Regions from separate parts of the Homo sapiens genome. Here all the other regions are reported to be linked to region 5. Evidence: microRNA targets listed by miRTarBase, many of them from high-throughput screens and not tested one by one. Region 5 holds a microRNA gene; each other region holds the end of a gene's coding sequence.

Region 1 (5,172 bases), not on the chromosome of region 5:
TAATATAAAGTAGCTACTTTGTGGTTTTTTTTACATGACGAGATGCAAAATTAAAATGGATGAGCTTACCCAAGACATTCACCTTATTGTTCAGTTGTTCAAATTTCAACTTTTTCAAAAAGTTGATTTATTCAAATCAGTATACAAAGGTAACACTTGCATTTTTGTGTTTCTTAAATCTTTTAATGGTCCCTCCTCCTTTTCCCTACAACTTGTTAAAGAAAACTAAGTTATTTATCCTGTAGAATCGCCTGTTCAGAATTTTGTTGGCTGCGCCCCCATGGTGTTCTTTAATGTGTTCCTTTGTGCTGTTCACTCTCCATTTACAGATAGGTGTAGGAGCTTGATTCGATTCAGGGTTTTTGTCTTTTGGCCGAACACTTCATAGGTAGTGCTGGGTACCTGCTGAGTCTTATCAGAAGGCACACTACTGTAAGATTGACCAGTGGGTTCCGGTGTTGCCATTCTCATCTATCCTTACAAGGTTTTTTATCAGTTTTTCAACTAATAGCCTCTGAAGCCATTGATGATCATTGCTTAGATTTGTCAAATTAATGGGAATTGAAAAACAGCGATATTCTAACACTTCTTCTGCATTTGTTAATTGAAATAATTCTACGTAGTCAACAAAATTTTCCCTTCATAATTTGATCATCCTGAGGTAAGGCAAGATAAATGTTTCTTTTTCTCCGATTTAGCAGTTTTCAGAATGATTTTTTCAATATCCTTTCGAAGGTTACCAAGGTAGTTTGTTGTTTTTGGTTGCTGGTTTTAGTAGCATTTTGAATGCATAGGTTTACATATTTATAACAACATGTTAGAATCAATTTCAGTTATTAGTCTTACTGATCATGAAATTGCTCCATGTATACAGCCAGTGGTTCAGAATCCCTGCAGTTGGATCCAGAGTTTCTGAGAAAAACAATGGTGTTTAAGTTTTCCTGCTTTGGTGATACTGAGTTTTTATTGTAATTTTTTAGATGTAAAAATAGTATTGTGAGGCCAGGCGCGGTGGCTCATGCCTATAATCCCAGCACTTTGAGAGGCCTAGGCAGGCGGATCACTTGAGGTACGGAGTTTGAGACCAGCCTGGCCAACATGGAGAAACCCCGTGTCTACAAAAAATATAAAAATTAGCCGAGCGTGGTGGTGGGCACACCTGCAATCCCAGCTACTCGGGAGGCTGAGGCACAAGAATCGCTTGACCCCGGGAGGCAGAGGTTGCACTGAGCCGAGATCGTGCCACTGTACTCCTGCCTGGGTGACAGAGCGAGAATCAGTTTCAAAAAAAAAAAAAAAAAAAGTATTGTGTTTTACTAGGAGAAAATGCGTAATATAAATCTGAGATGTAATGATACATCTCAGATTTGCTTCAAAATAAGCTGGAAGCAAGTAGTTTAGAGATGAAACTAGTTTTGCCACATGTTGTTAACTTTTGAAGTTAGTGTAATGATATACTACTGTTCATTATGTTATTCTCTTGCATACATTTGAAAATTTCCATAATGAAGTTTTTCTTTTAATTCCATTTTAGTGGTAAAAGTTTTTTAAAAACTCACTACTACAGAAAAAGAAAACACACATAACCTTAAAGCCTGGTGCACACCCAATCAGATAGTTCCCTCAAAATTCTAATTAAAGTGCATGCAAGAGGAAACTAGTAACTTATCTACTCAAACTCACTTTCCACTCAAGAAAAATGTGGATATCTGAAGTTAAGAAATAGTCTGAAAAGTGTGATTCTTAAAGTATTCTTTATTAAGATCATTAAAAGTTGTAGAAACAACTTTATATTATAAAGGCACAGGGAGACAGTTCAATAAAATATTCAAATTAACAGTAACTTACAGTACAAAAGACAATTTTAATGCACATACAAACCCCAAATGTCTGATTCAAAAATATTTTACTGCGTCTATTAATGGGCAATGATTAAAAATATAAATTGCTGCCATATAATAAATATCTGATAGTGAACATCTTGATAGCAAAGTGAACAAAATATTTATTGCTTTTCACTTACATATTTTTCCCTGTAATTTTAAATTCCTAATTCTTTTACTATCTTCTCAACTTTTCCCAAAGATAAAATAAATTTCACATAATTTCATGGAGGGGAAATGGTAGTTGTAAAAAACTACCTCAAGTAGCAATCACCGCTGGCAGTGTTTTCTCACTTTCTGTTCTGCAATTGCAATCACACTTCCAAAAAGAAAAGCAAATGTTTGCTAAACCATAGACAGACAACCTCTTTGTGACTGGTATTATAAGGTTTATAATGAAAACTTATCAAATATAAAAGGTGCTCCCTCTTGAAAATGTGTATTTTATTTGAAGTTTTGAGTAAGAGGTGAGTGTTTGGCAATTTTCAACACTCCCCTCAAAAATCTCCCAAAGTTGCAAAAAAGTCAGTTTAGTAAAATTCCAAGCACTTAAATGCTTCATTGAGGGCCAGTTGATATACGCAATGCACTAATGTGTAAAAATTAACCGAATGCAACTATTTTATAATGGAGAGCTCTTACCTTTTCCTTCCAGTTTTTAAACTGGCATAAACTTTATTGACTTCATCCTCCTATTTTTATAGCAACCTAGTTTTAGATGGTACAAGTTGAATTTCTATCACAAGACAATAAAATAACATGAAAGCATTATCCTAGTTAATGCTATTTCAACTTAAGAAATATCTACATTGAAGTATTTGATAATAATTGTAAAGTTACTTAACCGTATGTCATGTTCAGACAGTATGTAGCAGCTAGTAACGTGCCTGGCACAGAGTTGATGCTTAATAAATAGTTGCTGAATAAATGAAAAAGAAAAACCTGCCTTTGGTTGTGCATACTTTAATCACTTTCTGATTTAGAAAAAGATCAGTCTAGAGCTCACTACTGCACACTACATCAAACTTTGCTGTAAACAAAAGTAACAACTTCAAACAGAAAAATATTACCTGTTAGTGATAGTCAACTTATATAAAGAGCCCACACATTTCTATGCAAATAATTAAATTTGATGTTCTGATGTTTAACCCTTAGGTAAAGAAGACCAAAGTGTGCTGACTGGCTAATTTGTATGCTTTATAGTAATAATGATTAGTTCCTCAATAAATGAAAAGTTATGATGCCCGATTAAATTCAAACAATGGCTACCATGTTAATTTTGCAAAACTACCCATGAATAAAAGGTAGGATAACTTTAAATTACTTGAAAGCAGTAGTTTAACTTTCAACAGAAAAAATAATCAGGAAGATCTGAATTTAATAATGACAGAGCTAAAATACTGGAAGTAGGGTGGTAAGAATAAGTAGCTGACCAATTCTATTTTAAATTCTAAACATGAGATTAGGTGTAATATTTCTTTGGCATATGCATTACTATCTTGGACTAGTTAACACTTTTTAGATACTGGGTTGTATTTTTTTTCTGAATCAAAATTAACATCAATATATAGATTCTAGTATATTCTTCTTAAAGCCTTTAGAAAAGATAAAATGACATTTTGCAACATATGCCAAACTTCATGTTTAGTGTACACTTCTAATTATTGGCATAGAGGGATATAACTGTTAAATAACCTGAAATGACACCATGCAATGGTGAAACTACAGAAGTTGGTGAAAAGAAGTATTTACATAATGTAATATTTAGCTTTCTTTAAAAAAAAAAAAAAAAAACACAGTAAACCTGGGAATCCTGCCCTAACAGTAAATATGTACCAAATAGCACTGAATGACAACTATTAAAAATTTAAATGAACACCTACAGTAACCTGAATTTTCAAAATTTAATTAAAAAAAAAAAGGGGGAAAAAACCCTACACATCAGAAGGAAAAAGCGGCCTATAAAACAGACCAATCTGACTTGACATTCAAAGTAAATGCAAGAGATTCACAAAATCATGATAGTAAATGCAAACTAAGTACCAAGTACCCTTTGATACACAAGCCAATGTACTATCAGACTCATTTCCAATAGCTTAACAATATTCATTAATCCACTCAAGCATTCCGGGGTAGTGGGGAGCAGCTGATGACAGCTCAAGCCTCCAAAGTATAAGAACATACTTATTTGCAGAAGCATCATGTGATTTTTGAAGTAATGTCTTATTTTGATGGATGTTAACATTAAGATCTATCAGTGCAAGTTTATCATCCTCTGAATGTAACACTTCCAAATTTCATTTTTTCAGATCGTTTTTTGGTGGTTTAGTTTTAGCCAGTGCTGTTTAAATGGAGAAAAAAAGAAAAGTTCACCATAGACTACCTCACGTTGTTACTTAATTGTGCTAGGTATTCACGCAGTTCTTTTGCAGCCTGGAATCTGCCATAGCGCTTCTTTGGGTTGGCACACTCATCCAGCAAGGCCTCGAGCCGGCCATCTTTGGCAATTTCACTTGGTGGATCATGAAGGAGTCCTCCAGAAGTGCCACGCCAGGTGGCATGTCTGGATAAGAGGTTCTGACAAACAGCATAGTAATTGTGGTCCACAGTGGCACGAGCACAAAGAATTTCTTTTGAAAATGATAAGCAAGCCTCCTTATCACAGTCATCAAACTTGCTTTCATACCATACATCCCAATTTTCAGGTTTATCTGTGAAAGGAGGAAAAGCAGAAGTAGAAAAAAATTTTTTAAATAGTTTTCATTGCTTCCAAAAATAGAATATTTCACTAATTAATAGTATTTGTTCTACACTTTTAGGTAAAAGTATATTATAACCATAAACATTTAAATATATAAATTCATACAAACATTCACTGGGAGCCCACTAACGCTAGGCAGAAAGATTCAGAAAGGTCTCTACCACTTACAGGTTTAGTCTAGCGACTTTCCATCATACACAGAAAGTGCCATAAAGAAATATGACACAATGCTACAGGAATAGTGGGGAATTAAATTAGCACTTGTCCCTGGGGCTGTAGAAGGCTGCAAAAAGGAGAACATCTGATTTAGGTCTTAAAAGAAAACAAATCTGAAAAGAAACTAGGAAAAAATAGCATTCTAGGTTCAGGACACAGTATATGCAAAGACATGGACATAAGGGATTGCTCCATTTGGTTCACGAAGCAATAAGTTCACTGTGGCTAGAGTGTGAGAAACGTAGTTGGCAAGGAGATACAGGTGACGCTAGAAAAATAGGTCGTAACTTGTGTAATCACGACCATAATTTA
Region 2 (5,172 bases), not on the chromosome of region 5:
AGCTAACTCTTTTTTTGTATTTTTTGGTAGAGATGGGGTTTCACTGTGTTGATCAGGCTGGTCTCAAACTCGTGACCTCAAGTGATCCACTCACCTTGGCTTCCCAAAGTTCTGGGGTTACAGGTGTGAGCCACCACACCCAGCTGAACTTCTGATTAGGCACAACTATTTCCATCTTTGTCTCACTTGCATTACATGTATGAAAGCCTGCTTCTTATCACTTGTCTTTGCATTTTATTTTCTCATTTTCTAAATCATTTTTTAAAGTAGAAAAATAGAACAAAACATTAAAATTATTTGCAATTGCATCCTAACTGTTCAAGGTGGCGTTACGGACAAAACTGAACTAGCTGGTGGCTGGTAGAAGGCATCTCTGTATGTTTACATAGTAAAAAGTAATTTTTAGCTGAAGTTTGAAAGCCTAAGATTGATTTTACCACATATCATTTAGATGTATCGATATATAATGTATACAAGTAAAAGTTATGTAAAAGTTCAGTGCATTAGCCATATTGAAATCCCTAATGTACTTAAAATATAATCCATACAATTGCTCTAAAATAAATCGATTATATGAAATCATCAACATCAAATGGCCATAAGACTTCTACTCTGTTTCATACCCTGGCATTCTTTTGGTCTCTGGCATTAATTAGCTCAAAAGTTCTTGGTTGTTCTAAGCATTACCTGGAAAACAATGACATAATTAGGAATAACAAAAGATAACTTTTCCTTACCAAAAGTTAGCATAGCATATTATAGCAACCCATCCCTAAACAAATGGCACTATGTTACTTTGAGTAATTAATAAAAACGTTGTTTGAATTGGTATTCATGTTTAATGTTCTGTATTTAGGAGAAGATGGGCGGCTGGCATATGAACAATTGGACAAATTTCCTCGAGACTGTGTTAAAGTCGGAGGTCGTCATGGAACTGAAGTTGCCACAGCCTTTTAATTACAGGTTAACTGCCTAACAGCTGTCTTAATATCTGGCCCTTTTCATCAGGATGGTGCTGTGGTTTGGGCTGGAAATTGTTTAGAGCCTGAGAGACACGACAACTGAAATAAAAATGTAGGCCAGGTGCAGTGGCTCATGCCTGTAATCCCAGTACTTTGGGAGGCCAACGCAGGAGAATTGCTTAAGCCCAGGAGGTTCAAGACCAACCTGGGCAACATAGCAAGGCCCTGTCTCTACAAAAAAAATAGTTTAATTAGTCAGGCGTGGTGGCATGCACCTGTAGTCCCAGCTACTTGGGAGGCTAAGGTGGGAGGATTGCTTGAGCCCAGAAGATTCAGGCTGCAGTGAGCCATAATTGCCCCACTGCACTCCAGACTGGGTGACAGAGCAAAACCCTGTCTCAAAAAACAAAACAACAACAACAACTAAAAAAACATGTTATAGAAAGAATTCAGAGTCTCGTTTCACAGTACCTATCTACTTTTCCTTTGGCCAATATAGAATAGGGCTATGGTATAATTCAAATATATTACATCGTCGATTGTGTCTAATAATACTCAGTGAAAGAGTCCATCTTATCTTAATATGTATGAAATTTAAAAATAGCCATCTTTGTACTTTTTTGCAAGTTTCTCTATAAGCTTGAAATAGTCATGTGATACTTCGACAAACATCATATGCCTTGCAGTTTTTCTCGGTCGTGTTCTCAGGGTTGAGTAGTCCCCTTAGCTACCTAACTTTACTTTCAATACAAAGCACAAAAAAGAATATCTTCAAATAAAAGTTTGCCTGCAGAACCTGGCAAAATGACCCATTAGGAGAGTTTAGATGTTTTAATTTTATGTGCTCCCAGCTACTCTGGAGTCTGAGGTGGGAGGATCACTTGAGGCAGAGGTTGCAGTAAGCTGAGATTACACTACTGCACTCCAGCCCATGTGACAGAGGAATGAGAGCCAGTCTCAAAAAAAAAAACAAAAAACTCCCATAATTTATTTTGTTTCTTTTCCCCATCCTGAAAATTCCCAAATCATGTTTCCATTATGGAAAAATGATAAGTAAATGACTAAGAACTACATTAAGATTATGCCTATACACTTAAACAAAAAACTCAAAGCTTATGCTTTTTTTTTTTTAATTAATGAGAGCTATTTTTTATGATATTCTTACCATAGGGGTGTTTTGCTGCTAAGACAAATCAAAACCAAAAGCTGTAGATTCACAAACCTGTGATGCTCTTTGAGGTGGAGGAACCTAGAAGTCAGAGAAATCCTAATGGAGTAGGAGTGGAGGAACATTTAAAGTGGTCCCTCCTTCTGTAAAAATGACCGTGGGATTAGAAAGAAGGACATCCTGAGGGGTGGTTACTGCCCCCAGGGAAATCACTCACTGGTAGGATTCCCTGGCCAAATAGTTCAAACATCAGGTCCCATTATTGCTTCAGTATCAGAGATGCAAGTTCATTAAGCAAAGTACAAGACCATTCAGTAGCTCTTATTAAAATATCTTTTCTTCCTCTAAAGAGTGTACAAGGTGGGGTATGCCAAGGTATCAAAACAATATATGTGAGTGTAATTTAAACTGTGGAATATCAACTGTACTATGGACGTGTTTGTATCATTTAGATGTCATTTTAAATATTTACATTTTAGCAAGACTTTTAAAAAGGACTCATTTCATTTCAAAGTGCAAATTGTTTGCCAGGCTTCTGGCAAATGGTTCTTTCAACTGTGAACTTATCGTGTACATATCTGTATATTTATAAATATTATATATATTCATACATCCTTCACTTTAAAGGTACATTGTACAGTCTGTAGTTAGGAGGTATAGCCTATAGCTTATGTTAAATGGTTGAAATGGTTCTTTTTATAGAAAGTCAAACACAGATGTTACAGGATTTTGTGTTTGGTTTGTCATTTTTTTATTTTTTATTTTGACTATTGCATGAGTAATTAATTCCAGATCTTTTGTATTCACTTCTGTATTTTATGTTTGGTTGAGGGGTGCTTTTAGTTGTGTGGCATTTGTATTCATTGATCTTTCAGTCATGTAAGTTAAAATAAAAATTATTTTTGAATTACTAGCATCATGTGCAGTCTGATGTTATTTTTTTTCACATGCCCTTTCTGAGTTGGTATTTACAGAACACACTGCACCTCATTTTCACCTTTATTTTATTTTATTTATTTATTTTGAGACGAAGTTTTGCTCTTGTTGCCCCGGCTGGAGTGCAACGGTGCGATCTCGGCTCACCGCAACCTCCGCCTCCCGAGTTCAAGCGATTCTCCCACCTCAGCCTCTCGAGTAGCTGGGATTGCAGGCATGCACCACCACACCCTGCTAATTTTGTATTTTTAGTAGAGATGGGGTTTCTCCATGTTGATCAGCTGGTCTCGAACTCCCAACCTCAGGTGATCTGCCCGCCTCGAGCTCCCAAAGTGCTGGGATTACAGGTGTGAGCCACCACAGCTCGTGCTTTTATTTTCAATTTGAAATTCCTTTATCTCTAAATAGAGATAATAAATCTCAGTTTGTTGTAAAGCTAATTGGAGAGAAAACAGCTAAGTTTCACTGTTGTATCTATGAGCAGAGACTGTGAGCTCCTTGAGGGCAAATAGGCATGGTGGCTTACCCCAAGATCGTGCCACTGCACTCCAGCCTGGGCAACAGAGTGAGATTCTGTTTCGGGGAAAAAAAAATAAAAAGTGCCTTCACTGATTTGTGTATGTTCTGTTCCCACTCAGACCCCACCAGCATCATCACAAAGAAGCCCTTGACTTTCAACTCTGACAGTATTTACCAAGTGACTCGTTAAATACCAGTGATTGCTTTTACTGAGTCAGTGGTACAAACATTTTCCTCTATAAGGTTTGCTACTATACTGTTTAACTAAATTGCCTTAGTTACTTTACAAAATTGTAAAGTAAAATTGTAAACCTTAGTTCACTGAAAAATGCCAGTACTTCTCGCTGTATCAGAAAAACTCAAATAAAATACTTTTATCCCTGACTTTTCCTGGAGACAGTACCTCTTAGTAAACAAATATTATCTTTTGATTTTGAGACAGTCCTAAGTACACCTTGTTCAAGGAATAATAATTGTTTGCTAAAAATTAGAACTCTAACTTCTCATGCATTCAACAAGTATTTGTTGCTTACTTACTATGAACGAGGTGTATGCCAAGGACTGTTCTTGGCACTGGAAATAGAGTAGTAGAGAAAAATAAAAGACACAACAATCCCTGCCCTCCCAGGCCTTATATCCTGGCAAAGCGAAGACAACAAAGCAGAGAAGGGGAAAAATGATTGCACAAGGTGGGGTGAAGACAGACACAGGGAGAAAGCAAAGATCACAAGTTTAAAGAGAGTAGTCAGGGGCCGGCACAGTGGCTCACACCTGTAATTCCAGCACTTTGGGAGGCCAAGGCTGAGGATCCCTTGAAGCCAGGAAATCAAGACCAGTCTGCATGGCATACTGAAACTCCCATCTCTACAAAAATTTTAAAAACCAGCTGGACGTGGTGGCGTGCACCAGTGGTCCCAACTGCTTGGGAGGCTGAAGCAGGAGGATTGCTTGAGCCCAGGAGTTTGAGGCTGCAGTGAGCTACGATCGTGCCACTGCACTCTAGCCTGGGTGACACAGCAAGACCCTGTGTCAAAAAAAAAAAAAAAAAAAAAAAAAGGAGTGCAAAGGCCTCACAGAAAATTACATTTGAGGAATGACCCGAGGAGCTATTGGGATGAGTCACGTGGATTATCTCTGGGAAGAACCTTCCAGGCAGAGGCAACTGGAGGCAACTAAAATATTCCTCTCTAAAATGCTGGAGATTATAGTGAAAAGGTTAAAACAGGGACATATTCTGCCACTCCTTTCTGCCTTGGTCAGCTCATAACCAGAGCTCAGAGACAGCACTGCCAGAGGACCCAGGAACAGACTTTACTCTTCCCATCAACTTACCTTCAGGCATTTTCTCACCTTTCGGAAGCCTGAAGATGGTCTTTTCTTTGTCTTGTCACTAGATAGGATTCATGGCTCTTAGTTAAAATGCTATTTAAGCAAAGCCCCTAAGCCACTGCCTAGAGAGAGAAATACTTTGGAACTGAAGTCTCTCCTGCACATTGGGTACAACACACATTAATAAACTTCCGTTTATTTTTCTTTTGTTAATCTGACTTTTATTTTCAGGACAGTGTCTCAACTAAAAATGTAAAA
Region 3 (5,000 bases), not on the chromosome of region 5:
CTGTGTTTGGATTACAGGTGTAATCTTGCTTCAGCCTCCTGAGTAGCTGGGATTGCAGTTGCACATCACCACCCCTGGCTAATTTTTTGTAGAGATGGGGTTTTGCCATGTAGCCCAGGCTGGTCTCAAACTCCTGGGCTCAAGCGATCCTCCCACCTCAGCCTTCCAAAGTGCTAGGATTATAGGCATGAGCCACCATGCTCATCCTTGTACATTTATTTAGGCATTAAATGTTCACAGCAATTTGGAAGCTTATAGAAGAGGAAACAGGCTCAGATAGGTTAATTAAGTTGCTCATGGTCACAGCCAGTGAGTGGCAGGGTGAGGATTTGAACTTAGCCTGAACAAGTCTGTGTTTGCAGCTGTACCTCCCAGGGTTAATACAGCCTCCCTCCGTATCCCCCGGTTTTTTTGGTCTCTGCTCCCTGATGGGTGGAGGGAGGCCTGACCCTTCCCCTCCCGCTGCCCTGTAGGAGTCCATTGAGACCATGCGGACCCGGCTGGAGCGCAGCATCCAGATGCTCACGCTACTGCGGGCCTTCGAGGCACGTGACCGCAACCTGCAAGAGGGCAACTTGGAGCGGGTCAACTTCTGGTCAGCTGTCAACGTGGCGGTGCTGCTGCTGGTGGCTGTGCTGCAGGTCTGCACGCTCAAGCGCTTCTTCCAGGACAAGCGCCCGGTGCCCACGTAGCCCCTGCCATGGAAGGAAGAACGGGACAAAGGAGGGGCAGCAGGGTGTGTGCATATGAGACTTGGGGGTCCCTCCCCAATTTTAGTTTCCTGCCAAAACGGGAGTGTGCAGTCAGGGCCTGCGGTCTGGCCCCATGAGTCTCCTTCCGTCCTCAGCGGGCAGGGAACACCTCTGGCTTGTAGAAGGGACGGCTCAGTGGCTGCACCGACGGTCCTGGAAATCTCACATGGTGGGCACTGCAGCGTTGGAACGTGAGCCTCGGATTTCCTGGCCCCTCTACTGTAAATGTGCCTTAGCCTAAGCCTCCCATCCTGTGTTAGCGTTGCCTGGTGCGGGGCAGGGCCTAACAAGGAAACCTGGGCCCTCCAAGCCAGGTTGAGGTCTGGTAACAGAATGCCAGGAAGGGGGCCTGGAAGACCACCTGCCCCGGCCCCTCTCCTGCAGGGGCCCCACACAGGCATGAGGGATGGCCCGGCCAAAGTCTAGGCAGAAGCCTCCTATAACAAAGGGTGGTGTGGCCTGGGCATTGGAGTCAATAAATTATGGTCAGAAAATCACAAGAGCCTGCTGATTGGGGCTCAGGGACACCAGCCAGGACAGACCGGCCCCCGAGGGGGCAGCCAGACAGGTGGGAGGGGCCTCCCACGAAGCTCAGAAGAAAGGTCGTGCGGGAGCCGATGGAGGTGGTCGCCTGGCACAAGAGAAAAATCAGAAAGCAAAGTTTAACTGAGCCCCAGTTGGGCCACGAGGCTTGGGCTTCCCCACGAGGTGAGAGAAGCAGGGCCTGAGGGTAGGAAGGGGGTGGAGCGCTGGGGTCCCCGCTTCACCAGGCAGCAGCCAGGCCTGTGCACGTGGGGGTGTGCAGGGGGTCAGAGAATATCTGCTCCCACTCCTCACATGCTAAGGAAAGTAAAAGCTCTCCCCTGTATCGAGTGGCTTCCTCTGAAAGGTGACACCCCCGAAAGCAGAGCCCTCAGGGAGATGGGAGGCACTTATGAGTGCAGGGACTTGGGCATCCTTATGGGAGGCCTGATGGAGGTGGCACCCATGTCCCCAGCCTGAACACTAACACAAGAGGCCCACACAGCAGCCACCAGCAGCGTCTTCCCTTTATTTTAGTTTATTAATAGAATACAGAGTGCAGGCACTTACAGTGGTCAAACTGAGCGAGGAGTGGGTGAGGTCTCCTCAGAGAGAGGCCGCCCTGGGCCCACCCATCAGGGAGGCATGGGCGGGAGCTGAGAGGCCCCCAAGACCCCCCGCCACCACCACCCACATAGCCCAAGCCCAGCCACCCTGGGGGACCCAGGAGGAGGAGGAGGAGAGGAATAGGGCAAGGCCGGCCCGGGCCAACGGCTCCGGGCCTAGCAAAGGCACCTCTGGCAGCCGAGGCTGGGCCAGGCTCAGGCTGTGTGGTTAATATGGCCGGGAAGGACTATGTACACCTCAGGCCTGCCAGCTGGGCACTACCGAGCCCACTGGGCCAGGCTTGCCGCTGGGGAGCTCCTGCTAATGGGAAGTTGATATACCCCTGCACCCCAGCAAGGCCTGGGGATGTAGGCGCCCTTGGTGCCCGCACTTATAGAAGGCCTGCCCTACATGGGCTTTCCCAGCCCAAGAAGACCTTGGTAGAGTCCCCCCCAGGCTGGACCCCTCATTCAGGATGGTGTCAAGGGTTCTGGTCCCCCCTCTGCCACCCTGAGACTCCATCCCCCAAAGTGCAACACCCCAGCGCCCCCTGCCTGGAGCTCCAGGGCCCCTTTGCGCAGTGCGGTGTCCAGCCAGGCACAGGGGCCGGCCCTGGACCGGGGCCAGCGTTAAGGAAGAGGCCAGGGCTGCCCACTGGGAGCCTGGTCCCAGCATAGGGGCGGCGGAGGGCCCCAGACCACTGAAGCTCCTGCGCCGCGGGTGCGTGAGGCCCCCCCGAGAGCACGCCCCCCTCGAGGCCTAGTCGAGCAGGGATGGCTCGGCTGGGCGGATAATGGTGGGCCGGCTGGGCGCAGCAGGGGGTCTTCTGCTGCAAAGAGAATAAAGACAGGTGGGGAGGGGGAGACGGCAGTGAGGCCGGGAGCAAGAGGCAGGCCTGGGTTGAGGACCCAGCCCCCACCCACACACCACCCCAGGGTGTTCCCAGGCTGACCTCCGCAAGCCACCAGGGTGTCGGGCAGGAGTGCCAAACCTAGGCATCAACTCGCCTGCTGTTTGACCCTCAGTGAGCCCCCTGCCCTCCCTGGGCCTCAGCTTCCCCACCGGAGAAGTGGGGAGAATAAAGCCTGGCCCACGGTAGGTTGAGGCAGGCAGGAGCAGGAAGGAGAAGAAGGTAAACAGTGGGAGGAGGTGCCCAGTGTGAGGGTTCCCCAGCTGCCTGGTGGCACACCCCAGTAGGCAGAGGGCAAGCTGGGAGCCCCGGAGTCACCAGGGCTCCGCTACTCTGTGACACTGAACAAGCCTCTTGGCCTCTCTGGGCCTGTTTCCTCGCAAGCCAAATAGGGATGAGGACGATTCCTCCACTCCAGCAGCTGGGCACGTAGTGAGAGCTCACTGGGAGGAAGTGAGACAGGAGGAGAGACCCCAGGGTGCAGGCAGTTGGGGTGGAGGGCAGGGGGTTGGCCTTACCTGGGCACTCCTGGGGGAATCCCTGGGGGGATCCGAACTGGCCGAGATGGGATCTGAGGCGGGGCTGGGAAGAGGTCACTGTTGGCAAACACGCTCTGGGGTCCAGGCCGGGATGGGATTGGGGGCGCCGAGAAGGAGGCTGCTGCCCCCACGGGAACAGGAATCAGGGGGGGCCCTGGAGTGGGGCCCCTCACTGCTGGGGGCCGGCCAGGGGGGTGTATGCTGGACACCGGTCGGCGCTGTGGAGTGGGGCTGTGAGGAAGGAGAGGGTGTGAGCTACAGATACAGATGGAGTAGGAGCCCCCGCCATGCCACTGTGGCTGCCAGAACCTGAGGTGGGGGCTGGCTATGGGGACAGCGCAGGCGCAGTGGGATCCTCCCACCCCAACCTGAGCGCCAGTCCCACCTTCCCTTGCCCTCGGCCCCCTCAGGCACTTCCCACTCACAGGGCCCCCTCAGGCCTTGGGCCTGGGATCCACCCTCACAGCCAAAGACACTTCCAGAGTCCTCCAGATCAAGCCCTAATATCTCTAGGGGCCGTGGAACCTGCAAGCCCTGTCCAGACATCCAGATTCCCTCCTGGGCCTCAGTCCCTGCCACCTGCAGGCCTGGGTGCGATATCCTCCCCTTAAGGAACTCCATGGCTCCCCCAGGGCTCTGCAAGGCAGCCCCCTCTGAGGTTCCCTGCCCGACGGCCTCAATGGACAACTCAGGGGCGGCAGCAGCTCTGGCCACGCCTTGCGTTTGCCCCTCCAGAGCCTCCCATCTGCCCTTCTCTGTGCTCCAGGAGGCTCATCTCTCTCCTGTGGCTGCTGCCCCTCCAGCCTCTTACCCCAGCTTCCATTTGGGCTGTGCCAATGGAAGGCACCAGCAGAGGGCAGGCGGGGTATTTATTCACAGGGTCCTGCCCTAGAGCTGTAGGGCTGGCTCGCCCCCATACCCCTTCTCTCCCTCCTCCGGCCTCAGCAGGGCAGCAGCTCCCACAGTGCCCAGCCCTGGGTGCCACCCTTGGGCTGTGTCCTGTTTCCTGCCAGGACCCTGCAGGACACACAGGGAGGGCAGGAACCTGCAGGCCGAATGCTTGAGGGTAGGGGAACCAGGCTTCCGGACCTGTGGCTGCTGGCGCTCTGGAGCCAGGTGTCATCGACAGGCGGGGGTACAGGCGTGGACACAGTGCTGGTGCTGATGTCACCGATGATGTTGAGCGCCTCCTTGAGGGCATGGTACATGCGCAGCATGTCGTCCCGCCGCTGTGCCTGGTCAGCCGACTCCTCCATGAGGCTGCTCTGGTCTGCCGAGGAGTATAGGTAGGCCAGCAGCTCGTGGTGGATGAAGGCCTTCGTCTGCGGGCAGGGGTTGGGGAGGGTCAGGCTTGTGTATCACCCCAACCCAGAACCCACAGTGACTGCTGGAAAAACATCTCTCACAGGGCGGGGCCACCCCCAGACTTTTTTGAAAAAGAGTCTTGCTCTGTCACCCAGGCTGGAGTACAGTGGCTCAATTTCAGCTCACTGCAACCTCCGCCTCCCGGGTTCAAGTAATTATCCTGCCTCAGCCTCCCAAGTAGCTAGGACGACAGGCACGTTGACACCATGCTTGGCTAAGTTTTGTAATTTTTTTAGAGATAGGGTTCCACCATGTGGCCCAGGCTGGTTATGAGATTCTTATTCAACTTATTTCTAGTATCTTGCC
Region 4 (5,172 bases), not on the chromosome of region 5:
GTCTGGAGAGGGTGGCATAAAGTAGACTAATTAGAAGAAGGCCTTGTAGACAATTTGCAAATTTAAAAACAACTCTTCACCATCAATGACAAGAAAAGAATGATATAAAAGCAGTTGAGTGAAGGGAAAAGATGGTGTTGACTTGGATTAAGGCAATGGCTGTGTACAAATTCAAAACATATTTAGTTTACAAGTCAACAGCTTGGTGATAAGTGGAGATAGAGTTGAGGAAGAGAAGAAGATATCAAGGATGACTTGCCCAGCCAGAGGGATGGTCATGCCATCCGCTCAAATAGATGATACCAGAAGAAGGCCAGGTCTGGGGAAAGATTATAAAAGAGTCTTGGTTCTGTTGAGGTCCGTTTTAGAATTGAAGATACCCATGTGAGTTAGCTTGATGAATCCAGAGCAAGAAGTCCAAGTCTAAAGGTTCAAAATAAACAGAATAAAGACTAGGCAGTGAGTTTTTGGTGACTATACAAAAATACTTTAACAAGGAATGCCAGATAAAAAGAAAAAATAGTTGTAAATTGAGACAAGCCTAACACAATGAAAACATTTTGTAAAGCTAATACTAGGAAAACAATAAACGGCTTTATAAATATTAGAAATTGTAAAAGCCGGGGTTTAGTGAACAGAATCAAATCAAAACAAAAGAGCAAGACCAAAACTCCTGTTCCATGAAACCAATCCCTGTCTTTCAGGAAGTGGTAGTTGAGTTATGGCTGGGGAAGTATCATGTATGAAACAAGAGGGGAAAATCTTTGAGAGGGTCGTTGAGGTGGTTGGGGGAGGAAGAAAGCAAGTGTAGCTTATGAAGCTCCCCCTATATTAAGATAACTACAATACGTTACCCTCAAATGTTTCTGTCAGAAATAACCAGGTTATCCTGTTCTATCTTGGAACTGACACATGAGCATATGCAAGGCCAGTTTCACTATGAGAGGAAATTTTATTTTATTTTATTTTATTTTATTTATTTAGTTTTATTTTTTTGAGACAGAGTCTTGCTCTGTCGCCCAGGCTGGAGTGCAGTGGTGCAACCTCCACCTCCAGGGTTCAAGCAATTCTCCTGCCTCAGCCTCCTAAGTAGCTGGGACTACAAGCATGCGCCACCACGCCTGGCTAATTTTTTTGTGTTTTTAGTAGAAATGGAGTTTCACCATGTTGGCCAGCTGCATCTCGAACTCCTGACCTCAAGTAATCCACCCGCCTTGGCCTCCCAAAGTGCTGGGATTACAGGTGTGAGCCACCGCACCTGGCCAGTTTCACTATGGGAGGAAATTTAAGTAAAATCATGCTAAAGCAAATATCACACATTAATTGTAATGGAGTTATGAACGTTCAAATAAAAAAACCCTTTAGTTTATATAAAAACAAAGTCATACTTACATTTTAATAAGAAATGCAAATCCCAAATAAGTTACAGCTTTACTAGACCAGCAAGAATTAAAAACAACAAAAAAAGAAAGACAAGTTGATCTAGACCTCTAATTCTTAGGAATAAACAGCTATTTCAAATCTTCAGAATGTCTAAATTTGTTTTTTGGTATTCCATTTAAAACTTTAAGTCTCTTTGAACTTTAAGCTTTAAGAGTCAAATAATTCTACTGATTTTTGACACAGAATTAGATGGGATTTGGTCTTTTATGTCATGTGTTCCTTAAAATTTGAGAAATAAACAAAGCCTTACACACGGTTCTTTCTTTTTTTGAAGGCCAAGATGCACATTATTCAATTTCCTCTTGGCCTCAGAAGTTTTACTTTCTTCTGCATTACAAGAGTGAAATACTATTGGAAAACAAGGTGTGTCACATGGACTATGTAGCACAGTATATAGATCTATGTAAGAAATTGAAAGAACTCCAAAAGAACCACTTTCACATTTAGTGGCTGTAAGGTTGGATAGAGAGCATATTCTAAAATCTACATCTAGGGATATAGATTAGGGAGTCCCTGATACTTTCTGTTCTAGTAGTTTTTTTTCAAATATCTTTCCAGGAAAAACTACTCACTCTTATATTGGCCTAATGGAAAAATAAACTCACTAGAAAATTCCACGTTTTGTCAAAATCTTTATCAAGTTTCTCCCTACAAGAAATAAACAAAATAAAGCTTGAGAAAATAAAAGTGATTTCAGTTCACATAATACACACTTTCTTAAAATTCCCCTAATCCTAAGGGTAATGTGGGGGGCTAGTTTCAGAATACTTACTGAGCATCAAATTGTTTAGGAATTAATCAATAAATCTATGTAGGATACGAACAAGGTAAGTAGTCCAAACATTTGTGGTATAAGGTCTAGAAGATCGGTTGGTAACTACCTTCTTTAGACTTCAATACCACCAGGATGCTTACTTGTCTTTTTCTTACAAAAAACACATTCAGGCACCTGTGTTCAGCATTCAGTCTACTTCAGTGTCAAGACAAGGTCTAACAATGATAAAATATGGCATAAATATATGGTAATATAATAGAAACAATCTTGAAACTATATGCGATTTCAAATATCTTATTTCAAAAATGAATTTCAGTATATTTGGTTTTAGTGAGTAGCCACTGAGGAAAACAGTCTGCATGTATTTAGCAAGGGTAGTATCAATGCATCAAAAATATTTCTTAAATATTTTGAATAAAGGAGGGACACAAACTCAGCATGAAAAGTAACATCCTGGAGTTCTACCTACCTAGATCATATCTGAATTCTCAGCAGCAAGCAGGAGACTCAGAAAATGCTGACTTTAATTACAAACTTTATTTGTCAATACAATTCACAGTTTATACATGGCGCATTCCACCATATAAATTTTCGGAACAGTTATTTGAGGAAATGGGTGTAGCTTTCTTTCTAAAAGAGCCTGACTTTCTAAAATTTTGGTTGGATTTTTTTTAACTTTATAAAAGTACTTTTAACAAATTAATTGAATATTTACATTTCTAGCTTAAATTTAAATTTTGGAAAATAAGCGTCTATTAGTTTATTTGCTTCTTTTAAAGATTCTGGGTTTATTTTTCAAGACCCTAATCTGAATGCCACTTATTCAGATACAGCTCCCACCCCCACACACAAAAAAGTAAAAGAAATCAGTTTGCAATTATATTTAGGGAAATTATTTTCTTTCTGCATTTTAAAAATTATATATATATACAATGTACAGCAGATCTAAGTATGAAAATAAAGGAAAGGGTAGCAATTTACGGGGTGCATTTACTGAATTTTTTCTGAATCTTGGAACCATCCAAAGAATTACAGGATATAAAATTAAACTAAAAAGAATAATCAGCCTCTTTTATGTGAAAAAAAAACACAGCAAACTCTCAAAATTTAAATTGTGCTATAACAGCTTTTTCTCTAATGTCAGAGATGAATTATGCCTGCAATCTGCATTTTTCCATGTGCAAAGTCACAGTGATCCCAACTTCAACTTCTGCCCTCACAGCCAAGTCACAACTCCAAAAGTATACCCACAGAAGGCTAGGACTGTGCCCTGCACTCACCACTGTGCCACCTCCTCTCATCTGGCAAAAGTCACCCAACGAAAAGAAAATTATATAAGCCTTTCATACATCAAAAAGCAATTAGAAGCTGGCAGTATACTGTTTATTAGCAAATACTTGTAACACATTGTTTTGCTATTTTCTTTCCATCAGAATGATAATTCACACCCACTGTTTTAAATCCCCTCCAATAATATCCATTTTTAACAGTTTTCTTCTGTCAGGTCATTTAGATAGATAGATAGATAGATAGATAGATAGATAGATAGATAGATAGATAGATTTTCTTCTTCTGCCTTTAAAAATGTATAGTTATTAATAAATGATAAATTCCAAATACTGCCAGGAAAAAAGGGGATTGTTTGCGAGCAGCCAATTTTACCAGCCTGGTCATAATTACACTGTATATATGTACCACTGGTACCTGAGTCAAATAAATACTCAGAGGGGCCACCTCTGCACCTCATTTCTCTGCAGTGCCTTTAACGCTAGGCAACGCTGAGTGTTGCTTCAATGTCCATCTAATTTGGCATCTATTTCATCTTCGGGCATCATCACTTCAGTCATTTTACACACTGTTTCCAGCAAGGTATGGTATTCAAATGGGAGAACTGGGGTAAAAGACTGCAGAGGTGAGCCTAGGGGTGGGGGCAGGGAAGGAGAAACCACACATTAGCTAGAGAGGTTCTGTTTCTTCATAAGATAAGGCACTGACAGAAAATTTCTTAGGTAAAAGGCTGCATAAGAATTTCTTGTCATTTACAAAAAAAAAATTGTTGTCATCCATAAATGGTCCATATCTAGGCTCAGTTAGGTAGACCCTGAAAAGTTAAGAACTGATCCCTCAAAGCTACATTGTTACCAGAAACAATTCTCATTCATTCTGAGGCCTTATGGCACATTAGGGAAAGAGAGAGGAAAACAGTCTGGGCACAAAAAGGCATCAGACATTGCTTGTCATTCCACTCATCAAAGAAAGTGGACCGTTCAACAAGCATCATCAGAAAGAAAGTGCTGGCTCAGAATTCCAAATTCTCTTGATGATAGATGACCATGATGGGTGTATCTATTTTGTTCCCCCTTTGAGCTCATGCACAATTTAAAAAATGCTACCAGCAACAGTCATAAAGAGCATAGAGAAGTCCTCACCTATGGCTATGCCTAAGGTTATTTAAAGAGAGGGCTATTTGATGTTCTCAATCACAGCAATCTCTTCACCAGCACAGTGTGGCGTCAAACCATTCAGATAGATACTCTCAGTCTTCAGTAAGGGAGGCAAGACATCCCTCTCGCTGGTCAGGTGGTTCACTGACAGGGTCCTCCTACAAGGAGTCAGCTCCTGATTGTGGTTTCCAGCCAGTTCTGCCGAGAGCTTCCGCTTGATGGAGGTGGCCCGCTGGAACTTGTCATAAATCTCCACACTCAGTCGCCTCCTGGTTTCTTTGAATTCGGCTGTGACGTTGGCTGTCCACTCAGCAGCGTGTGCTCTGAACTCTCCCACCTGGAACATACAAGCAGAGAAAAGATAAAGATATTGACATGCCGATCAACATTTTCTATGCTTTATCTTCAGTTCATTTTATTTTGGGATTTTAAAAAGAAGAGTGGAGTAGTCTTTTACAGCACTGGTGGTCTGAGAATTGATGAAATTAGGCAGGGTATACACAGCAGGAT
Region 5 (5,000 bases):
GCGTGGCCGCTGCGGAAGGGCGTCCGCCCGGCGTGCGGAACGCTGAGGGTATTCGGATTGTCTTTTATTTGTCCCTGTGGCTTGCTTTCACAGTGTCTACGTAGGAGAGGGGTCGGGGTTGTTGGGGTCTCTTTTTTTTTCTGGGAGGGGTAGCTGAATTGTGGGAGACCTAGGTGGACTTGACTTGGCTTTCCTGCTACTCTGCGTCTCCTTCTCAAGATGCGGGGGTTGGAAAGGGGACAGGGGACTCAAGGCTTAGAAAAGAGAAGGAGCCCTCTGCTGCCTGGAGGGCTAAGGGAGTAGAGAGTGGAGATGGAGGTGAGTAGGGATGGGCCAGCCCGAAGAGCACTGAGGAGGAGAAGGGGTCTTCTCCTCCCTCGGGTCCAGTGGATGAGTTTTGCTGGGAATGAGAATTCGGGTGTCTGTCGATAGGAGCGCTGAGAAATTGATGAGAAATTGACATGTCCGTGCACATGCATGAGGCGGCGACAGGATTTGTGTGTAAACAGTGTGGAGAGGTGGAGGAGGGCATGGGGGTGGGGGCTTAAAATGATGTCTTATTGTCCTTTTGGCTTTAGGGACTCTCATCCTCTGTCTCGCCCCCTTTTTTTGACCCGGGGATCCAGCCGCATTATACACGAGTGACCTTTTAAATCTACGTCCACCCTTTACCTGGTAAAGCCCGCTGACAGTTGGGGGTGGGGTGGGGAGAGTGTAGGGGTGCTCTCTCCCTCTCTCCCTCCCTCCGCCTCTCCTCCCTCCCTCCCCCCTGCACTCCTCTCTCTTCCTCCCTCCCACCTCCCTCGCTCCCGCCCTCCCTGCTGCATTTTGCATGAGCTATCTAGGTCATTAGCATTTTAGCGTATGCAAGACTTGACAAAGCTGATGAGGGGCCAGATGGGCCTCGCTCTTATGGTTTTTTTTTCTTCTTCTTCTTCTTCTTCCTCTCTCTCTCTCTCTCTCTGTCTCTCTCTCTCTCGTCTCTCTTCCTTTCCCCCCTCCACCACTTGGGACCTGAGCGAGAGGACTGCAGCAGGCGAGTTCCGGAAGGCTGAATCCCCAGGTCCCAGCCCCGGACCGCGGCAACTCGCCCCTGCGGCACGCCCGGCCCGGCTGCGCCCCCACTCAGCGATGGAGGTAAAGAGGCGGCGGCCGCGCGCCCTGCCCCGGCTGCCGCTGCCGAGTCCCCGCTGCTCTCCTTGTCCTTCGCTCTCTTCTTCCTCCTCCTAGTCCCCTTCAGTTTCCTGGGCGAAGCAGAGGGCGACATGGGTGGGTGGGTTGCTGCGCTGGGGCGAGGTGGGGTCGATGTTGTTTTTTCATTGTCTGGAGCTGCAGGGGAGGCGAGGCGCGGGGAAAGGGGCGAGGGGAGCCGGGGTAATTAACACGGGGGAGGCACCCCTCCGTCTCCCACTTCCACCCACACCCCCATCCCTCCACCCCCTCCGCTTTGCAGGAAAAAGCCTGGATGCGAAAGGATGGGGGAGAACAAAGAGCCTTTGGAAGACGTCGCTGTTATCTCATTGTCTGTGTGATTGGGGGAGCTGCGGCGGGGAGGATGCTGTGGTCCCTTCCTCCGGCGTTCCCCACCCCCATCCCTCTCCCCGCTGTCAGTGCGCACGCACACGCGCCGCTTTTTATTTCTTTTTCCTGGTTTTCTTATTCCATCTTCTACCCACCCCTCTTCCTTTCTTTCACCTTTCCTTCCTTCCTTCCTCCTTTCCTTCCTCAGGAGAAAGGCCTCTCTCTCCGTGTTCACAGCGGACCTTGATTTAAATGTCCATACAATTAAGGCACGCGGTGAATGCCAAGAATGGGGCTGGCTGAGCACCGTGGGTCGGCGAGGGCCCGCCAAGGAAGGAGCGACCGACCGAGCCAGGCGCCCTCCGCAGACCTCCGCGCAGCGGCCGCGGGCGCGAGGGGAGGGGTCTGGAGCTCCCTCCGGCTGCCTGTCCCGCACCGGAGCCCGTGGGGTGGGGAGGTGTGCAGCCTGTGACAGACAGGGGCTTAGAGATGCAAACAGACTCAGGGAGAGAAACAGAAGCTGATTCTGTGACAGAAGCAGATCTGTGCAGCACAGATGCGGTGTGCGTGGGGAGGGGGTCGCCTGGGAGCGCATTGCGGAGTGCTTGTGTGTGCAGATTTTTCTCTGGGCTCAGGACTCATTGTATGTGGGTCAACACCTTCCTCCGTGACTGTGTTTTTGTTCTGAGCTGAGTTTTTTGGTTTGCCCTTAAAAAAATAATAATTTGGCATCCAGAGACTGGCAGACTGCCTCAGGGCCTGGACTGCGGATATATTGTGTTCTGCTTGAGGTTTGGGGAGGAGGGCAGGCGGTAGGAAGGGAGAGGGGGAGCTGTTTGTCACACTTTGCTGTAGAGCTGAGAGCACCTGACAAGCTTAAGGAAGTCGTTGGGCTATGTGGACAAGAAGGAGCCAGCTCCCAGCGGGTTCACAAGCTCTATCGGAGTTGAAAGCGTGGTCATGGCTCTAAGGAGCACCTCACGCCCTCCCTGTAGCTGTTATTGCAGTTTCAGGCAGAGATCCAGGAGCTGCAGAGGAAGGGAGAGGCACAATAACCTACATGGACCCAAGGGAGACATGTGTTCCTTTAAAAATGTGAACAGAAGGAAAAACAGAATGTGTGCAACTGGGGGTCTGAGGAAAGACTGTTTTGAAAGAGGCTGTCAGGGAATGGAAAGGGTTAAGCTTTTCATCCTGAAGAACCTGCTTCCCAAATCAGGCCTTCCTCCCATCACTAGACCCTGAGCAGCAGCTGGTCCTAGAGACCCCCCTCGTACTGCGCTGCCACAGTCTCATCCCATTTCCAGCTCTGTATTAACCACCAAGCTGCAGCGGATGGGGCAAGACCTAAGCTCATTAATTTCCAGGTGGAGGAAATGGAGGAGGGGCAGGTCCCTGCAGTAGAGGGAGGAGCAGAGAAAGGAGGCCAAGAGCTGGATCCTTCTGCCCAGGAAGCCTGCTGCATCCCTTCCCCCGAGCATGGCAGAGGCCTGGCTTTGCAAGGCCAAGGCCATAAGGGATGCTTAGGAGATTAATTTGATTCCTGACACAATAATCAAGCCCTAAGAGTCTCCACTGAAGCTTACTGAGGACTTCTTTCCTCTCCAAAGCCTCAGTCTAGCCTGCTAAATAAATTAGTATTCAGTGATGCCTTGGATCAGGGCCCCTCCCCGGCCTCAGTTTCCCCAAATATTTATTAAGTACCTACTGTGTGCAATCCTTGTGTAATTATTAACTCTTAGGCTCTTCATTTGCCCTCCTAAAGCAGTGTTTAGAGTCAGGCAGAGGTTAAGTGTGTTGCACCTCACCTAGATACTTCCAGAACCTTCTCTGGGTCTGCAGAATGTGGCACAACCTGCTTGCCCCCGCAGAGAGAAAGCTGCAGTGCACATCCTGCAGACTGCAGGTGCTGGGCTGCCTCTGGAGTCCCAGAAGGCAAGCTTGGCTGCAGGACAGAAAGGGAGAACAGCTTCTCTCACCCCTGAGCCTTCACAAGCCCTTGTCTATTTGCCGTTGCCTTCAAAATATACCTCCCCCGAAACCAGTAGCTTTCTGAGTCCTGGTGTCCCCTCCGCCCTTTCTGGACAGGTTTGGGAAGAAGAAAGCAGTCAGTGCTGGGCCTTATTGGGGTGTGAAGCGCCTTGCTCTGCCCCTTCTGCTCACTGTGAAGGCCGCTGGATGCTTCTCTTAGGCATGGTTTAAGCCTCCGATTACTAAACCCCTTGCCCCACAAACGTCCACATTGACGAGCCTCTTTTTAGTAACTGCTTCCCCGTAATTCCTTCAGAGGTTGCTGTACCCTTCGCTGATGTGCTGCCCTCCTGTAAAACCTCCAGATGCCTTCCCACGTAATGCCCCTTTCAGATGCTTTAAGCTGAGAGCTTAAACCACAGGTACCATGGCTGACGCCTGCCAGGTTTCTGCTGCAGATAATCTATGATGGGAGGGGCATATTTTTTACTTCATTACTTATGTAAACTCTTGTTCCAGAAAGCTTTAATGTGTGTGGGAGTGTTCTGGGTCTATTAGGTCTGTGCGCATGGGTGTGGGCATTTGCCTGTGTCCACCGGGTGGGTCTCATTATGAAATGTATGTTTATGTAGGGCTTTAATGGCTGAAAATGGCAAAGAGATGAATAGACCACTTGGCCCCATGTGTAATTGCCAGGCCCCTTCTGTGCTCAAATGAGGTGTCCGAGTGAAGGTCAGCCCTTCCCTTCTGTATTTGGGGCCTATTTATGCCACCAGTAATTTTATAAGAAATCTGAATAGTTCTCCCCTTTGAGTGCATTTAACTCTTTAGTATCTTCTCTCTTACCTATTTGAGCCCCTCTAGCTACAGTCTGGCTTAAATGAAAGGGGAATTATATGCTTAAGAAAAAGTAGGACACGGTTGAGGCAGTTTGCTGACTGAATACGCGAAGAAGGACCTGATGGGCTCATATGCACCACTGCCATCACAGTCCCCATCGTGATGCAAGCTTATATGATTCTTGAGGTAACTCTACCAGATACTTCCAGATTTAGAAATGTGTCAAAGGAAAAATTGGTGATACTCTTCTTTCCCCTGCCAGAAACAGCCCAGATCTCCTCTTAAGCGGAAAAGAGATTGACCTTCTAGCAGAGGCAAAGGTAAACTCCTGTAAGTTACTTCTGTTACCAAAGGGAGGGGGGCGGCTTTTGTGAATGTATGAGGAGCTTTTGCCAGAGAGATATTCGGAGGAGGGGTGTGCCCATATGCACACATATATTTTCCCGCATAACCGTATCCAATGCTAGCATTTAGAGGAAGGCATTTAGCCACCAAAAGTCCATCCATCTATGCTGCTTCCACAGAGAAAACATTTTCTCTTTCCTCCTCTTGAACTTACATAATATCCTCCTCCCATTCCAACCTTAGAATGGAGTCTTCTGGGGGCAGCTGCAAAGCGTTCTCCCTAGGACAGATGGAGCCTCCCTTTCCTCATCTACTCTGTGGGT

What was found. Region 5 holds the annotated microRNA hsa-miR-124-3p (UAAGGCACGCGGUGAAUGCCAA, at 1,787-1,808, shown strand). A microRNA usually pairs through its seed, bases 2 to 8, with sites in the 3' UTR of a target mRNA and lowers its output. Matches are read on the target gene's strand: a 7mer-m8 pairs with bases 2 to 8, a 7mer-A1 pairs with bases 2 to 7 and ends in A, and an 8mer does both.
Region 1: the mRNA of DIPK2A is a reported target of hsa-miR-124-3p. Seed matches in the 3' UTR shown: 7mer-m8 at 1,799-1,805.
Region 2: miRTarBase lists RIPOR2 as a target of hsa-miR-124-3p. The part of its 3' UTR that is shown has no 7-base or 8-base seed match.
Region 3: miRTarBase lists TMED1 as a target of hsa-miR-124-3p. Seed matches in the 3' UTR shown: 8mer at 980-987.
Region 4: miRTarBase lists KCNK2 as a target of hsa-miR-124-3p. Seed matches in the 3' UTR shown: 8mer at 4,202-4,209.

Annotation. Positions count from the first base shown.
Region 1 is chr3:143,988,932-143,994,103 of GRCh38, reverse strand. DIPK2A (divergent protein kinase domain 2A) reads right to left here. Exons shown (of 3, transcript NM_173552.5): 3 at 1,736-4,594. The coding sequence ends at 4,263. Among named protein-coding and RNA genes, the nearest start is that of DIPK2A, 20 kb to the right of the region's middle.
Region 2 is chr6:24,802,158-24,807,329 of GRCh38, reverse strand. It overlaps RIPOR2 (RHO family interacting cell polarization regulator 2), which reads left to right. Exons shown (of 22, transcript NM_001286445.3): 22 at 857-3,046. The coding sequence ends at 957. Among named protein-coding and RNA genes, the nearest start is that of ARMH2, 5.8 kb to the right of the region's middle.
Region 3 is chr19:10,828,687-10,833,686 of GRCh38, reverse strand. It overlaps TMED1 (transmembrane p24 trafficking protein 1), which reads left to right. Exons shown (of 4, transcript NM_006858.4): 4 at 474-1,620. The coding sequence ends at 692. It overlaps DNM2 (dynamin 2), which reads right to left. Exons shown (of 21, transcript NM_001005361.3): 19 at 4,419-4,651; 20 at 3,309-3,560; 21 at 1,784-2,709. The coding sequence ends at 2,640. It overlaps MIR6793 (microRNA 6793), which reads right to left and starts at 4,714; the gene lies at 4,652-4,714.
Region 4 is chr1:215,234,655-215,239,826 of GRCh38, reverse strand. KCNK2 (potassium two pore domain channel subfamily K member 2) reads right to left here. Exons shown (of 7, transcript NM_001017425.3): 7 at 2,737-4,999. The coding sequence ends at 4,682. Among named protein-coding and RNA genes, the nearest start is that of KCNK2, 150 kb to the right of the region's middle.
Region 5 is chr8:9,900,207-9,905,206 of GRCh38, reverse strand. It overlaps MIR124-1 (microRNA 124-1), which reads left to right and starts at 1,735; the gene lies at 1,735-1,819. MIR124-1HG (MIR124-1 host gene) reads left to right here and starts at 1,878. Exons shown (of 3, transcript NR_024281.1): 1 at 1,878-4,518; 2 at 4,595-4,652; 3 at 4,921-5,000. LOC124902057 (a long non-coding RNA gene) reads left to right here. Exons shown (of 4, transcript XR_007061170.1): 2 at 1-48; 3 at 579-675; 4 at 1,020-1,137.